Homo sapiens: one gene and its partner. The protein of the gene in region 1 purifies or fractionates together with the protein of each later gene. This does not show direct contact. Each region holds a gene or a part of one and is shown in the gene's direction. Other genes may lie near its edges.

Region 1 (3,757 bases):
AGTGGAATACCATATGGTCAGTAAAAACCGGTAGCTCTATGAGTACTGTGTGTTGATACACAGACACACACACACACACACACACACACACACACACACACACACACACGGGGGGGGATTCGAAAAGGTTATATGTTACATTTTCTGTTAAAAATTTAAAATAACTACATTACCTATATTCTTGTTGACAAAATTTGAGTGCCTGGAAAAATACATAAGAAACTGGTAACGTAATTGCCTTTGGGGAAAGCAACTGGGTGGCAGGGTGAAATGGAGATAATTTTTTATTGCACACATTTTGTACTTTTAATTTTTTTACCATGGTCATGTAATAACCTATTAAAAACATAATTTAATTAAGGAAAAAAATCTAATTTTGCATTATTATTGACCTTCCAGGGATTCATGTAATTTGAGAAATTGAATGAAAACAATTTTACATGCATGAAATTCAGCTTTCTTACTCTATACATCCTGAGTGATTTGCCTTTTTCAGTAACAGAATCCTTTGCTATACCAGCTTGTTAAATGAATGCCAAATCAAGAGTAAAATTTCCATCTGTATTCCATAGTGTTTTAGCCATGCTGCAAAAGCAAAACCTGTAGGTAAAACAAAGAAAATTATCACCTTGAAGCTAGGTAACAGGTAACCCAGAAGTCCGGCCAAGCATAAAATTACAGCCACAAACAGCCCTGCAGAGAACATCTCAGGACGGCGGCTGCTGGGTTTTTGTTGTTGTTTTCATCTTTCTTGGCCAAAGGAAGCAGGTGTTAAGAGAGCTCAACCACAGCTCCTGAACTCTGAGATTTACAGAGCTCTGTCACCTGGGGTAATACTGCCATTCTTCCAGGTTTTCTTCCTGTCCAAGAAATCTGACATGCTGTTTTTCATGGTATTTTCAAACTGGAAGATCGAGACAGAAACTTTGGTCGTCAGGAATGCAGAGATTGCCCAATGAAATGACAGAATTGATCATTAGGATGCTTGTTACTCAAAAAGCCCATTTTTTAAAGAAGGATGTATTAAAATTATTCCAGCATGCTAATGTGGCACACTCCTCTGCTGCCTAACGGCAGGTGTTGCTATTAGCAGAGGAAGCCTTGTTCTAAGAATTATTCTAGAGGGCCAGAAAGAACAGGTATTGCTCCACCCGAGTAAACGCTGACTCAACTCTGCAGGGCTGGCGCGCTCTTTCCTCACCTCACCCCTCCTGCCAGGCACAACTGAGATCCAGAAATAAGAGGATTAGCGAGAGAAGGGGAAATATGCAGGACGGTAGTGATGGGTATGCACAAAGGAGTGCCAAGCAGTTTTAACCGTTAATGTTCTTCGTCTATTGCTAGAGAAAATGTCTTTCCTTGGAGGAGGCATTGGCACGAGTTACTATAAACTCCCTCTGAATCTCAAGACTTCTGGGACGCCGATTCCGCTCCTGGCCTGGGGCAAGGCGTGGGAGCTTGGAAGCCAGCGCTGCGCTCCCCGTGGGAAGCGATCGTCTCCTCTGTCAACTCGCGCCTGGGCACTTAGCCCCTCCCGTTTCAGGGCGCCGCCTCCCCGGATGGCAAACACTATAAAGTGGCGGCGAATAAGGTTCCTCCTGCTGCTCTCGGTTTAGTCCAAGATCAGCGATATCACGCGTCCCCCGGAGCATCGCGTGCAGGAGCCATGGCGCGGGAGCTATACCACGAAGAGTTCGCCCGGGCGGGCAAGCAGGCGGGGCTGCAGGTCTGGAGGATTGAGAAGCTGGAGCTGGTGCCCGTGCCCCAGAGCGCTCACGGCGACTTCTACGTCGGGGATGCCTACCTGGTGCTGCACACGGCCAAGACGAGCCGAGGCTTCACCTACCACCTGCACTTCTGGCTCGGTAAGGGACGGCGGGCGGCGGGACCCCGACGCACCAAGGCCGGCGAGGGGAGGGCGTAGGGGTCTGAGATTTGCAGGCGTGGGAGTAAAGGGGACCGCAAACTGAGCTAGCCACTCGCGCCCCCACGGGGCTGCCCTTTGGGGCCGGCCACTTTCTCCCTACCGAAGTCAACTCGCCGGCTGCAAACGCGGGGCTCAGGCGTTGTCCGCAATTGACTTACCTCGCAGGCTTTGACCTTTGCCAGGTGTAGTTCCTGGACTTTGGAGCTGGTGACTGGCTTCTTCCCCTTTCACCGTCAAGTATCCAAACGCCACTCTTGTCCAGGGCCGCTGCCTCAGCGCACACCGTCTCTGGCCAAGCCCCGCTCACCTTCCGACAAACTCAGTCCTGCTTTCCCTGTCGGGATGGAGAGGAAGTCATAAAGTCTGGGGGCATCTGCCGCCGCTAGGAAGAAGTCCTTTTCTTTTTCTTCACACATTATTTTTATTTGTTGCTTTCGGGCACTGGCTTATTTTCTCTATGATTGCGGGAATTATTGTTCTGGGCTTCTTTAAAACAGGATTCTACCCGCACCATGCTGCTTGTGGGTCTGGTAGACAAAAACTCCGCTTCATTCGGAAGCTGGCGTCCTCAGATAGAAGTAAGAAAAAAATACAGATATTTTATATACAAATAAATAGCTCTATATGGGTATTTCATATATTTATGTAGACTGCTTTATTGTTATTATTTATTATTTATTTTAGCAAGGACACAAGATGGAACAGAAACGGCTCCTTCAGCAGTAGTAATTATTTTGAGCTGCGTTCGTGCCAGGCTGTCAGGACACTGGGCCTTGTGTGTTCTTTTTCCACCTTCTACTTTTACTCATAAACATCCTGAATGTCCAGCCTCTCCCCAGGAGGTCTTGTGCCAGTGGGCACACCCTGTCTAACAACATGCCGATTCTCTGAGCCTTTTTGCCTTCTTTTAAAACTAGCTAGCCTGCCCAGTACTCGTGTTTGTTTAGTTTTATCCCTGAGCTTAGGAGGAAAACACACAAAACCACACACACTTACACATTTTTGAGTCCCTGAAAGCCAACACTGTAATTTCCAACATTTGAAGATTTTAAGAAACAAAATAATAGAAAACATTGAGTAGTGACTGTCTAAACATTGGCAAACACCTGGAACAGGCATTTGAGAAATGAGAAATGAAAAATACGTAGATGAAGATAAGACTTTTAATTATAACATTTGGAGTCAAAAATTTGTGTTAGCTTGAGGAGGCAGAGAAGGCTCAGCCTGAGTTCTGAACACATTTTGGCTTCTTGATGCATTGCTGTTATTCCTATTATAATGTTGTAATACACAGTCATCTATTTGTATTTTCTGCCAGAAAAGACTGAAACTTTTATAACCCATGTTCAAGAATGAATGATGCCAGATAGAATAATGATGTCCTTACAGAGGACTTTCCATGCAGAACTTAAATCTAGCATGAATGAAAGTGTTTGAAATGCCACATTTGCCATTTGAGTAAATTAAAATGTGAAATAATGCCATATCTTACTGTAGACAGCAGTTAAGTTTGACTTTGTCAGATGACCGCAAGGGAGATTTGAACACAATTCTTTAATTCTATACATTTTTATCCAAGTTGTCCTCTTAACTACTATATTTTGTAGGGTTTACAGATTCACCTTATTCACTTAATTATCTACTTAATTATCCACTTGATGCCCATAAATTTCAAAAATATAATAGAAAATGGTTTGGGCAGAAACATTTATAATCTTAAAGACATGCTAAAACTGAAGTCAATAACATGTTAATAACAAGCAAATTCATTCAGTAATTATTCAATATGGCCAGTACTGTACAAGGCACTTGTGGATATGAATAATTAAT
Region 2 (3,314 bases), on another chromosome or scaffold:
AGGCTCAAGCAATAATCCCACCTTAGACTTCTGAGTAGCTGGAACTAGCGGCGTGTACCACCATACCCAACTAATTTGTTTTTAAACATTTTTGTAGAGACAGGGTCTTACTATATTGCACAGGCTGGTCTTAAACTCCTGGGCTCAAACAGTCCTCCCACTTTCGCCTCCCAATGTGCTGGGATTACAGTCATGAGACACTGCGCCCAGCTATTTTCTTGTTTTTAAAAGAACTCTACTCTTTGAAGATAGAGACACAGGGGTCATTGTGATAGCCCAGGAGGGCAATAACAAGGGCCTGAGCTCAGTTCTGGCACTGGGTCTGGAGAAGGCAGGGTTGAATAGTAGTTAAATCAAGCAATATTTCGCTGTAGACTTGCCTATGGAATCAGAATTGAGAACCTGGAGGAAAAGCTTAAAGGGTCTCAGAGCAGACAAAACAGATGCCACAATCTACACCAAAGTTGTGCATCTTCCTCGCTGGGAAGAAGCTTTCTCAAAGCCTGCTGACTCTGCCTTTATCCACAGTTTTAATCATCGTAGCAGTTCGGAAGCAGCCAGTTAGAAAGTGGGGCTGTCAAAGGTGGACGCATTGATCTAAGTGTGAGGAAACAACTGACAGCTTGATGCGAGGGAAAAGTCCTACGATTGTACAACTCAGGAACTTTACTAAAAATCGCTGAATTGTAAGCTTAAAATGAGTGACTTTTATGGTGTGTGAATTACACCTCACTAAAGCGGTTTTTTTGACAAAAGTGGACCAAAAAACAATGCAAAGAAATTTTGAGAACTTGGAAGACGCAAGAGTGTGTAGAGTCATTTAGTGCAAAGGCAAATAGCACGTCATCCCTCTCAACAGATGTAACTGGGACTGGTGGTTTGTTAGTTAACAAAAAATATTTTTTTAAGTTATATTTTTTTAAGTTAGTTAAAGGAGGCAATCATGGCTGGGCACGGTGGCTCACGCCTATAATCCCAGCACTTTGGGAGGCTGAGGCGGGAGGATTGCCTGAGGTTAAGAGTTCAAGACCAGCCTGACCAACATGGTGAAACCCTGTCTCTACTAAAAATACAAAATTAGCCAGGTGTGGTGGCGCACGCCTGTAATCCCAGCTACTCGGGAGGCTGAGGCAGGAGAATCACTTGAACCCAGGAGGCAGAGGTTGCAGTGAGCGGATATTGCACCATTGCACTCCAGCCTGGGCAACAAGAGTGAAACTCCGTCTCAAAAAAACAAAAACAAAAGGAGAGAATCATAAAAATGATACATACATTCTTTTTTTTTTTTTTTTTTTTTTTTAGACAGAGTCTTGCTCTGTCACCCAGGCTGGGGTACAATGGCACAATCTTGACTCACTGCAACCTCCACCTCCCGGGTTCAAGCAATTCTCCTGCCTTAGCCTCCCAAGTAGCTGGGACTACAGGTACCCACCACCATGCCTGGTTAATTTTTGCATTTTTAGTAGAGACAGGGTTTCACCATGTTGGCCAGGCTGGTCTTGAACTCCTGACCTCAGGTGATCCACCTGCCTCAGCCTCCCAAAGTGTTGGGCTTACAGGTGTGAGCCACGGCGCCCAGCCAATAGATACATTTGGTTTCTTTGTTGTTGTTGTTTTGTTTTGTTTTGTTTTGAGATGGAGTCTCACTTTGTCTCCCAGGCTGGAGTGCAGTGGCATGATCTCGGCTCACTGCAACCTCCACCTCCCGGGTTCAAGCAATTCTTTGCTTCAGCCTCCCGAGTAGCTGGGATTACAGGCACCTGCCACCACACCTGGCTAATTTTTATATTTTTAGTAGAGATGGGGTTTCACCATCTTGGCCAGACTGATCTTGAACTCCTGACCTCGTGATCCACCCACCTTGGCCTCCTAAAGTACTGGATTACAGGCGTGAGCCACCGTGCCCGGCCGATACCTTCTTTAAACCATTTATTTTTGTTTTAAACATAAAACATGCGAGGTGTAGTGGCACCCCTCTAGTCCCAGCTACTCAGGAGGCTCAGGTGGGAAGATCGCTTGAGCCCAGGAGTTTGAGTCCAGCCTGGGCAACATGGCAAGACTCTATCCCTAAAAAATAAAAGTAGGCCGGGGTGGTGGCTCACACCTGCAATCCCAGCACCTTGGGAGGCTGAGGGTGGATCACTTGAGGCCAGGAGTTCAAGACCAGCCTGGCCAACATGGTGAAACCCCGTCTCTACTAAAAATACAAAAATTAGCCGGGCGTGATGGCACACACCTGTAATCCCAGCTACTCCAGAGGCTGAAGCAGAAGAATACCTTGAACCCGGGAAGCGGAGGTTGCAGTGAGCCAAGATCGCGCCACTGCACTCCAGTCTGGGTGACAGAGCAAGACTCTGTCTCAAAAACAAACAAATAAATAAATAATAAAAATAAAACATATACATTCATTTAGCATATTTTGATGCAGGACCAGGACCTTTTCTTCAAGGAGGCCCTCCCTGGTTGGAATCTGCCATGTCTTTCACACAAATCACACCTTAACTCCCATTTCCAGTTTCCATTTCTTTTAGGTAGAAAAATAATTTAAAGTTCATCTGAAAGCAAAGTCCTAGTTTTTACAATGTTTTCTCTCATCTTTTTTTGAGACATTGAGGTATAATTTGCCTATGGTAAAATTCATCCTCTGTAGTGTGTCGGTTTAAGAGTTTTGACAAACACACACAGTCATGCAGCCACCATCAGCCAAGATATAGAATATTCTCCAGTCTTTTAGGGCTAGATCTTCCACACCCAATTCGGCCACAGTTTTTTTAGCATCATCTTTATCAAGATTTTCTAAAGCATTTAATTAAGTTTTTATAGAAACAACAACTCTCTTTTTGTGCTCATTTCATCAATTTATATTATATTTCATTAAATTATGCAATTACAATAACAAATGTAATTCACACCAGAAAGTTTGAGACCAAACACAATTGACTGTGGGTAACATTCAACTCAGGTGTGCAGGAGCCTCAAGGAGCCTGCTGCCTTCCAGGGCTCGGCGTTTTGTGGACATCTGTCAATATGCTTTACAGGAGAAATGGAGGCGGGTTAAGCTAGAGAGTCATTGGGGTGAAGATCTGCCAGGATAGCTGTACATGAATCCCTGACCAGTGCAAACTTTGGTATTCTTGTCATAGTTCCTCATCAGTAGGGAAAAAGCTAGATTCCATTCTGTATCCTGAGCCTCCTTAAGAAGAGAAGGATACAAAGCATTTTAGAAAGTTCTAAATTATCAGCACAAGCCGGGCATGGTAGCTTACACCTGTAATCCCAGCACTTTGGGAGGCTGAGGTGGGTGGATCTCTTGA

What was found. The genes of interacting proteins can lie anywhere in the genome.
Region 2: the proteins of SCIN (region 1) and CORO2B purify together in Homo sapiens (co-immunoprecipitation; one large-scale study listed by IntAct). This does not show direct contact.

The regions. Positions count from the first base shown.
Region 1 is NC_000007.14:12,569,121-12,572,877, forward strand, and holds the start of SCIN (scinderin), read left to right. Parts: upstream 1-1,599; 5' UTR 1,600-1,666; coding exon 1,667-1,865; exon of another isoform or gene 1,866-2,261; intron 2,262-3,757. UniProt on the Homo sapiens protein: Ca(2+)-dependent actin filament-severing protein that has a regulatory function in exocytosis by affecting the organization of the microfilament network underneath the plasma membrane.
Region 2 is NC_000015.10:68,721,841-68,725,154, forward strand, and holds part of CORO2B (coronin-2B), read left to right. Parts: intron 1-3,314. UniProt on the Homo sapiens protein: May play a role in the reorganization of neuronal actin structure.